2 linked regions of the Homo sapiens genome follow. The main gene of each other region encodes a partner of the protein of the gene in region 2 in a complex. Each region holds a gene or a part of one and is shown on either strand. Other genes may lie near its edges. The genes, in order: PSMD4 and UBE3A.

Evidence for each region.
Region 1: the proteins of UBE3A (region 2) and PSMD4 are in contact, whole or in part, in an NMR structure (PDB 6U19), measured with the Homo sapiens proteins. Residues at the interface, in NP_000453.2 of Homo sapiens: Lys25, Arg26, Ala27, Ala29, Lys30, Ile33, Glu34, Tyr37, Asn65, Asn66, Ala69, Ile70, Leu73, Tyr76, Lys77; in NP_002801.1 of Homo sapiens: Glu323, Asp324, Tyr326, Val328, Met329, Asp331, Phe334, Leu335, Val338, Leu339, Asn341, Leu342, Pro343, Gly344, Val345, Asn349, Ala351, Ile352, Ala355, Met356, Leu359, Gln362.

Annotation. Positions count from the first base shown.
Region 1 is NC_000001.11:151,252,730-151,256,329, forward strand, and holds the start of PSMD4 (26S proteasome non-ATPase regulatory subunit 4), read left to right. Parts: upstream 1-2,004; 5' UTR 2,005-2,053; coding exon 2,054-2,079; intron 2,080-3,600. UniProt on the Homo sapiens protein: Component of the 26S proteasome, a multiprotein complex involved in the ATP-dependent degradation of ubiquitinated proteins.
Region 2 is NC_000015.10:25,369,193-25,373,323, forward strand, and holds part of UBE3A (ubiquitin-protein ligase E3A), read right to left. Parts: intron 2,621-4,131; coding exon 1,374-2,620; intron 1-1,373. UniProt on the Homo sapiens protein: E3 ubiquitin-protein ligase which accepts ubiquitin from an E2 ubiquitin-conjugating enzyme in the form of a thioester and transfers it to its substrates.

The sequences.
Region 1 (3,600 bases), on a different chromosome or scaffold from region 2:
GTACACATAACCCAGCCTCAATAATTATCAACATAAATAAGACCAGCGTGGCCGGGTGCAGTGGCTCAAGCCTGTAATCCCAGTTTTCGGAGGCTGAGATGGGAGGCCAGGAGTTAGAGGTTGCAGTGAGCTATGTATGATTGCACCACTGCTGCACTCCAGCCCAGTGAGACCTTGTCTCTTTTGTTTTACTTTGAGACCCTGTCTCAAAAAACAAAACTATTTGTTTCTTCCAGAGGATTAAGTTAAATCCCAAACTTCATATACTTTTTTTATCTATGAATACAACATATAACCCTTAATAAAGCCTACTTTTATAAGGGTGATAACTTTAACACTATTATCATGCCTAAAAAAATTGCTTAATATCAAATATCCAGCTGATGTGATGGCTCACGCCTGTAATCCCAACACTTTGAGACTTTTTTTTTTTCAGAGATGGGGTCTGGCTATGTTGCCTACGCTGGTCTCGAACTCATGCGCTCAAGCCATCCTCCCACATCAAAAAATTAAAAACAAATTAGCTGGGCTTGGTGGCATGCACCTATAGCCCCAGCTACTCAGGAGGCTGAGGCAGGAGGATGGCTTGAACCCGGGAGGTGGAGATTGCAGTGAGCCGAGATCAGGCCACTGCACTCCAATCTGGGCAACAGAGCGACACCCTGTCTCAAACAATAAAACTTTGTAGAGACGGAGTCTGGCTGTGTTGTCCAGGCTGGTCTCAGACTCCTAGCCTGAGTTGATCCTCCTGCCTGGGCCTCCCAAAACGCTGGGATTATAAAACCTAAGCCATTGCATCAGGCCTTGAATGTAATTTTTGATTAACCAAAACGGTTTAGTGGTTTGTTCTTTGGCAGATTAGTTAATATAATTGAGTTGTCAAATCTTTTCCGGGCTCTGTACTGGGCTTAGGGAATTGTAAAGATTAAGACACGTTGCCGGCCAGGTGTGGTGGCTCACGCCTGTAATCCCAGCACTTTGGGAAGCTGAGGTGGGTGGATCATCTGAGGTCAGGAAATCGAGACCAGCCTGGCCAACATGGTGAAACCTCGTCTCTACTAAAAATACAAAATTAGCCGGGCATGGTGGAATGCCCCTGTAGTCCCAGCTACCTGGGAGGCTGAGGCAGGAGAATCCCTGGAACCCAGGAGGTGGAGGTTGCAGTGAGCCGAGATCGAGCCACTGCACTCTAGCCTGGGTGAAAGAGCGAGACTCCTCCGTCTCAAAAAAAAAAAAAAAAAAAAAAAAAAAAAAAAAAAAAAAGGCACGTTGCCCACCCTTAGTTAAACGAGGGAGGAGATAAATATACAAATAAATTCAATTGAAGGGTATAAGGGCTTGTTGAATTAAAATTCTACAGGGAACTGAGGGCTGTAGAAAGTCATTAGCGATCCCGACACTTTTTTTTTTCTTTTTTTGAGACGGAGTCTCACTCTGTCCCCCAGGCTGGAGTGCAGTGGCGCGATCTCGGCTCACTGCAATCTCTGCCTCCCGGGTTCAAGTAATTCTCCTGCCTCAGCCTCCCGAGTAGCGGGGATTACAGGCGTGCGCCACCATGCCCGGCTAATTTTTTGTATTTTTAGTAGAGACAGGGTTTCACCATGCTGGCCAGGCTGGTCTCGAACTCCTGACCTCGTGATCCGCCCGCCTTGGCCTCCCAAAGTGCTGGGCTAACAGGCGTGAGCCACCGCGCTCGGCCGATCCCGACACTTTTTTAAAATGCCGAAGCCGGAATCGACACAGCACTTTCAAAGGTTCCTCCATAGCTCCCCTGAGATCCGGCCAGCGGGAAACCCCAACTGAGAACTGCAATGGCAGGGAAAGTGGAGGCTAGATCCTGTTTTTTGTGTTACCGCGATTCCCTTCAACTACCCTCAAGACGCCTACAAATTTGTTTGGCGGCACCTACAACTCCCAGAACGCAACGTGGGGGACGGAGGCGGAAGCAGCTGGCCAAGCCGAGGTCTGTGATTGGTGAAGAGCGACGGGCCAATTGGAGGAGTTGTTGTTAGGCCGTCCCGGAGACCCGGTCGGGAGGGAGGAAGGTGGCAAGATGGTGTTGGAAAGCACTATGGTGTGGTGAGGAGCTACTTCGGGGCAGGAGGGGCAGAGCTGGGTTCCGGGCGCGTGTAGCGCCAAGGCAGGGAGGGCCTGGGGTGGGGGCCAGGGGCTCATGGGCGAGAGGCGGCCCTGGCCCCGGAGGTAAGGAGCCCGCTGGACTCCCTGAGTCATCCCGGGGCCCTGGAGTGGCGGATAGTCCCGGGTTACCACTGTTACCCCCAGGGGGACGGTCATTGACTGGTCATTCCTGCTTCCTTTCTCTGTTCTAGCGCCGTCTTCTCTAGAGCAGCCCGGGTCTGTCTTTAGCTACAGTTCTGCTTTTCGGACTCATCGTAATAGTTTTCTGCCCTCCTTTCTTTGCAAAATAACGTCTATTAGGAAAATAGATTATTAATCCCTTCCTCTCCCCATTCCCTCGTCTCTAACTTCATTACCTTTCCCTGTATCATCTTCAAAGGTACCATTTACAGATTGCTTTTTATGTATCAGTCATTTTGTTTATCTCACTTATACCTCACAACCACACCTTAAGGTAAATTATCTCTCCATTTTACGGTTCAGGATACCGAGTCTCAGCGATTTTAAGTGATTTGTCCAAAATCATACAGCTAGTTAAGTGGTGGAGTCAAGATTTAAACCCACGGCTGTCTGACACAAAGGCTTTATCCGGTGAGGTAGCTCTCTTTGTCAGTTTCAGGCTTGGGCTGAGTACCTATTACGAGTCACATTAGAAGAGGAGGACATAAATTTTTGCAGGGTTTCAAGAGTTCCTTCTAAGTGTAATCACTGAATGTAATACAGAATAGTTGACGAACACAAATCACCGATTGGGTGAAACAGGCACCTATGAGATTTCTTCTTTTTATTTTCTCGGGGGAGCATAGCATTGCCAGATAACATACAGGATGCCCAGTGAAATTTGAGTTTCAGATAAACGATGAATAATTTTTTTTTGAGACGGTCTCGCTCTGTCTCCCGGACTGGAGTGCAGTGGCCCAGTCTGGCTCACTGCAGCCTCCGCCTCCCTGGTTCAAGTGATTCCCAGTGATTGAACTAATTTACACTTGCACCAACGATAGAACAGTGTTCTCTTTTCTCGCAACCTTGCCAGCATCTGTTATTTTTTTAGTTTTTAGTAATAGCCATTCTGACTGGTGTTAGGTGGTATCTCGTTGTGGTTTTGATTTATTTGCATTTCTCTAATGATCAGTGATATTGAGGTTTTTTTAATAGGCTTGTTGGCTGTATGTATATCGTCTTTTGAAAAGTGTCTGGCTGGGGCGTGGCTCAGGCCTGTAATCCCAGCACTTTGGAAGGCTGAAGTGGGTGTATCACCTGAGGTCAGGAGTTACTGACCAGCCTGGCCAACATGGTGAAACCCCATCTCTACTAAAAATACAAAAATTAGCCAGGCGTGGTGGTGGACGCCTGTAGTCCCAGCTACTCCAGAGGCTGAGGTGGGAGAATCGTTTGAACCCCGGAGGTGGAGGTTGCAGTGAGCCGAGATGGCGCCACTGCACTCTAGCCTGGGCGACAGAG
Region 2 (4,131 bases):
TCTCAAAACTATGTAAGTGAAATAAAAAGGGTACCAGAAAGCAAGCAATAATAATGACTTCAGGCAGTTAAAGCCCCCTTTTGTCTCTGCTAGAAAACCACCTGAGTTGCTTAAATAATGCAGAATCTTTCTCCAACACTATAAACATATCTGACATTAAAAAAAAAAAACAAACCAGTAACAAAAAAAAAAAAAACACACAAAATCTCTGCAATTTTTAATTTCTGAGATGTCAAATAACTTTTTCCACCGGGCTACAGCTTTATGAATTCTCGAATTTAGACAATTCTAAAACTAAAATTTAGACATTCTAAAACTAAAATACATTTTAAAGTAAAAATCACATTTCCTAGTTGTCTGTGTCAGACAACTTTACTAGTATACTATAGTATTATTAACTACCTTAATTTTTGTTGACATTAAATTTTACTTGAAGATGATAAAAAAGTAGCAGCAATGACAGGGATAGCTAATACTAGAAATACAATAAAGCTCTGCGATAATGCACCTGAGACAAATGTAAATTTTGGTGAAATGTGACTGACGACTGCTTTCTGTCTTCTGGCCACTCTTATATTCTTAAACAGATACACTAAAATTATCTTGTGGAGGAAAGAAAAGGAACAAATGGCAACCCCATCTGGAAAACCAGGAAGTTAGGATGAGTACCTGAGTTTCCAGTATTTCCCTGCTCAATCTCCCTGGACTTGATGTTACAGGCACCACTAATCCCCAGATTTTTGGAATAGCTGCTGTTTTCCAGAAGTTCCAAGACCCAGAGTTGTCTCTATGAATTTTTAAGTGGGAAGAAACTACCACAGCCAGGCAGTGCCGTCCACACAGGGATATTCTAAGTGGCCCAGCAGGACTCAACTCTTACTGGCAACAGGCACTGATCTGCCATGGTCACTTCATCAAGTCCACAATAATGCAACTCTGAATTTTACACGATGGAATTTTTTGGACACTACCTATAATTTTATGGTATGGTTTTACTGTACCATTACTCCCAGTTCAAGACTGCACATCCACACTTATTATTGGGTATCTCCACATTTCTCTTGTTCTGGTCTTTGTCCAACACTCTATTCTCTTCTGAATGAAAGAAACTTTGGATTTAGTTTTCAAGATTTAGAAAACCCATTCTTTTTCAAAGATAGCATGACCATTATATAATACAACCGATACTTTGTAGAACACATCTATAAACTTGCACAGGAACAACAAAAGTATAATACTTATATAAGATCAGAAATGTCCATGTGTTCCTATGCTATATGGTATCATTTTTTTCAGTCACTTTTAAAATGAATTCACTGAACTGTATCATGATATCCCCATTATTAGGTTTTTAATCTAGCAGCCCAACTTACCCGGACAAGTGCATCATCTATGATATGGTCACGTCTAACTTTGAGTCTCAAATATGGATTCAACTGCTGTCCTTGAACTAAGCTGTAGAGAACAGTGATTCTTCGTTCACTGTACATGCGAATTCTATTGTCATAATATAATCCCAAATTCTTTGTGACAGCATTCAATATAAAGGGACATGTCATAAAAGAGAATTTGTTCTCTGTTTCTACTTTGAAAAAAGTATAATCTTTATCCATTTCTAGAACCTCATTCAGTGGTTCATTAATAAACTCTTCAAAAGGGATAAGTGGTTTTCGACAATCCAGGGTTTTAACACCAAGTTCAGTTTCCAGGGGGTCCACTCGAGGACCTTTCTTGTTTCTTCTTTCTTCTCCCAAAAGTTCCTGAAGTGTCAGCTCGCTGGACTCAGGGATGGGCTCTTCATCATCTTCTTCATTGTGATTTGTGTCCACTTCCCCTCCCACTACATTTGCATAGTAAACCATTTTCAAGCACTTCGAAGCAGCAACAATGGCATCATCATCATTCACTAGATTTCGACTGTTAAATTCATTGCTTATGACTTTATAAGTAATAAGTTGCTGAAATGTCTCCATCATTCTCCGAATCTGGTCTGCATTGTATTTAGACCACAGTCTGATCAGTTTTCCTTGGGCTGCAAGGGGTAGCTTGCTCATCGCTTTGCAAAATAATGGCAAAGCCATTTCCAGATATTCAGGACTGTGGAGATTTCTATTCTCCATTACGATAATGAACAAATTCAGATAATTAGGATCTCGAGAGTATACATTGTGATACGTCAAGTCACATTCCACGTTAGGTGACAAATATACAAGTGCATTGAGAAAGGCAGTTTCAATTTTTTCATTAGAGAGCAATCTGGTGTAGACCCTTCTAATGGCATCAATATCCACAGACACATCATCAGGGCCTAATTTTTGCAAATTGTTGTCTCCCTGTGAGCTATCACCTATCCTTGAGGAAGATGCTTCTGAGTCTTCTTCCATAGCAGCAGCAGAACATGCAGCTTTTTCCTTTTCATCTTCATCTTTGTCTTCATCTTTTGCTTGAAGAGATTTCAGTTCTTCCTTGGTGTGTTGTTTAACTTTCCGGAAGCTCTGTACCAATGCCTCAGCACTAGAAAAAACTCTTCCAATAACACGGATTAAAGGGGAATAATCCTCTCTTTCTCTACATAATTCAAGAATTTCATATACCTTCTCTTCTGTTAAGTAAGTCACATCTAGAAAATCAGAGGAAAAAAGAGAACATTTATTTTCATAATATGTATGTTTACTCTGTTGCAAAAAGTTCTAAAAGTAAAACAGCCAAACATTCTAGGCTCAATATCATTTATGATATACAACTCTTAAAGTATCTAATACTTAGATTCAGCAAACAAAATTTAATGCTTACCTATTTTTTTCAATGAACTACCTACCTATACCAATGACCTCACCCATGCTTTTACATTCTTTCAACAATGTATAACTCTTAATAAGATCATGAGTTTAAACTTTCTTTATAATCAAGATATCTATTAATGTATAGCTTTAATTATAAATATGAACCAATATGTCATGTACTGATTAATCATAATACAGCTCTTAAAACCTCACTGTAGAACACACAGAAATACTACTAATCTGTGAGTTTTCTTGTTTCAGTACTCTGTTCTCCAAAGACTAAGAAGGCAAGGTCTTAAAAAAAGGCTCCTTCAGCATCTATGTATGTATTAAAATCAAACTGGTTCATTTTGGGTCTTCCTAGTTTGTTCCAGGGTAGTCATTCTGTGAGTGATTGAGAAGAATATACCATTTCTCATCGGCTCTTAAGTAGAAACTGCTTTCCACAGCCAGGAATCAGGTTAGACTAAATCTCATAGAGTGACAGAAAATAGTTTTTGAGCAATGAAAACAAACAGTGCAAAGAAGTAAACTTATGAGCTGGCAAGCAGTGCAGAGACTATGTAGTCATCAAAATCTATTTCCTCTTTTCCTGGGCACAGAGTTGGACCACATTTCCCAACTTTTTGAGATAAGTGTTATTTTCAGGCCAAGGCTTTCTCCCTTCTGGCTAATAGGATGAAAGATATTTCATTTCACAGGTAAAAACAAATGATATATTTTGTGTACTGACCAACATAATACTGAGAATAGTCTTAATTCTCCCTTTTATCAATAAAGTGACATACTTGTCATCATCAGATTAACTACTTGAGAGGTTAATTTTAGAGGCACACAGACAATCCTACCTCCATTGCGCCAAATATACCCTTATACATGTAGTGTACAACATGTAGAATTTTTAATGACTCCCACCTCTGCTATAATATATGTTTCACAATGAAAGACAATATAAAATGTAAGTGATCATTGAATGGTCTCCAAAAATTGAAGCACAAAAATACCAAATTTTATCATACTAAGGATCTGATCTGTGGCCCAGCTACAAGAGTACCAACACTTACAGTTTCTTTTATGGGCCTTAACTCTTTAAGAACTAATTCTCAGGTTTGTTCTATTAAGAATATATAAGCATCTTTTGCTAAACATCAGTAACCTCTTCCCCAAAAGCATAAAACCACTGGAAACCTATTTCTCATTATTTTCATTGAAAATTTTTAAAATACCTTCTTACAAGACAATGCAAAACTCCTAATTTCCTAAAATGTAACATAACAGAAAATACTACTATCCTATTAGGACATGAAACACTTTGCTTCCTGAGCAAGTCATAAGGTTAACAAAGACT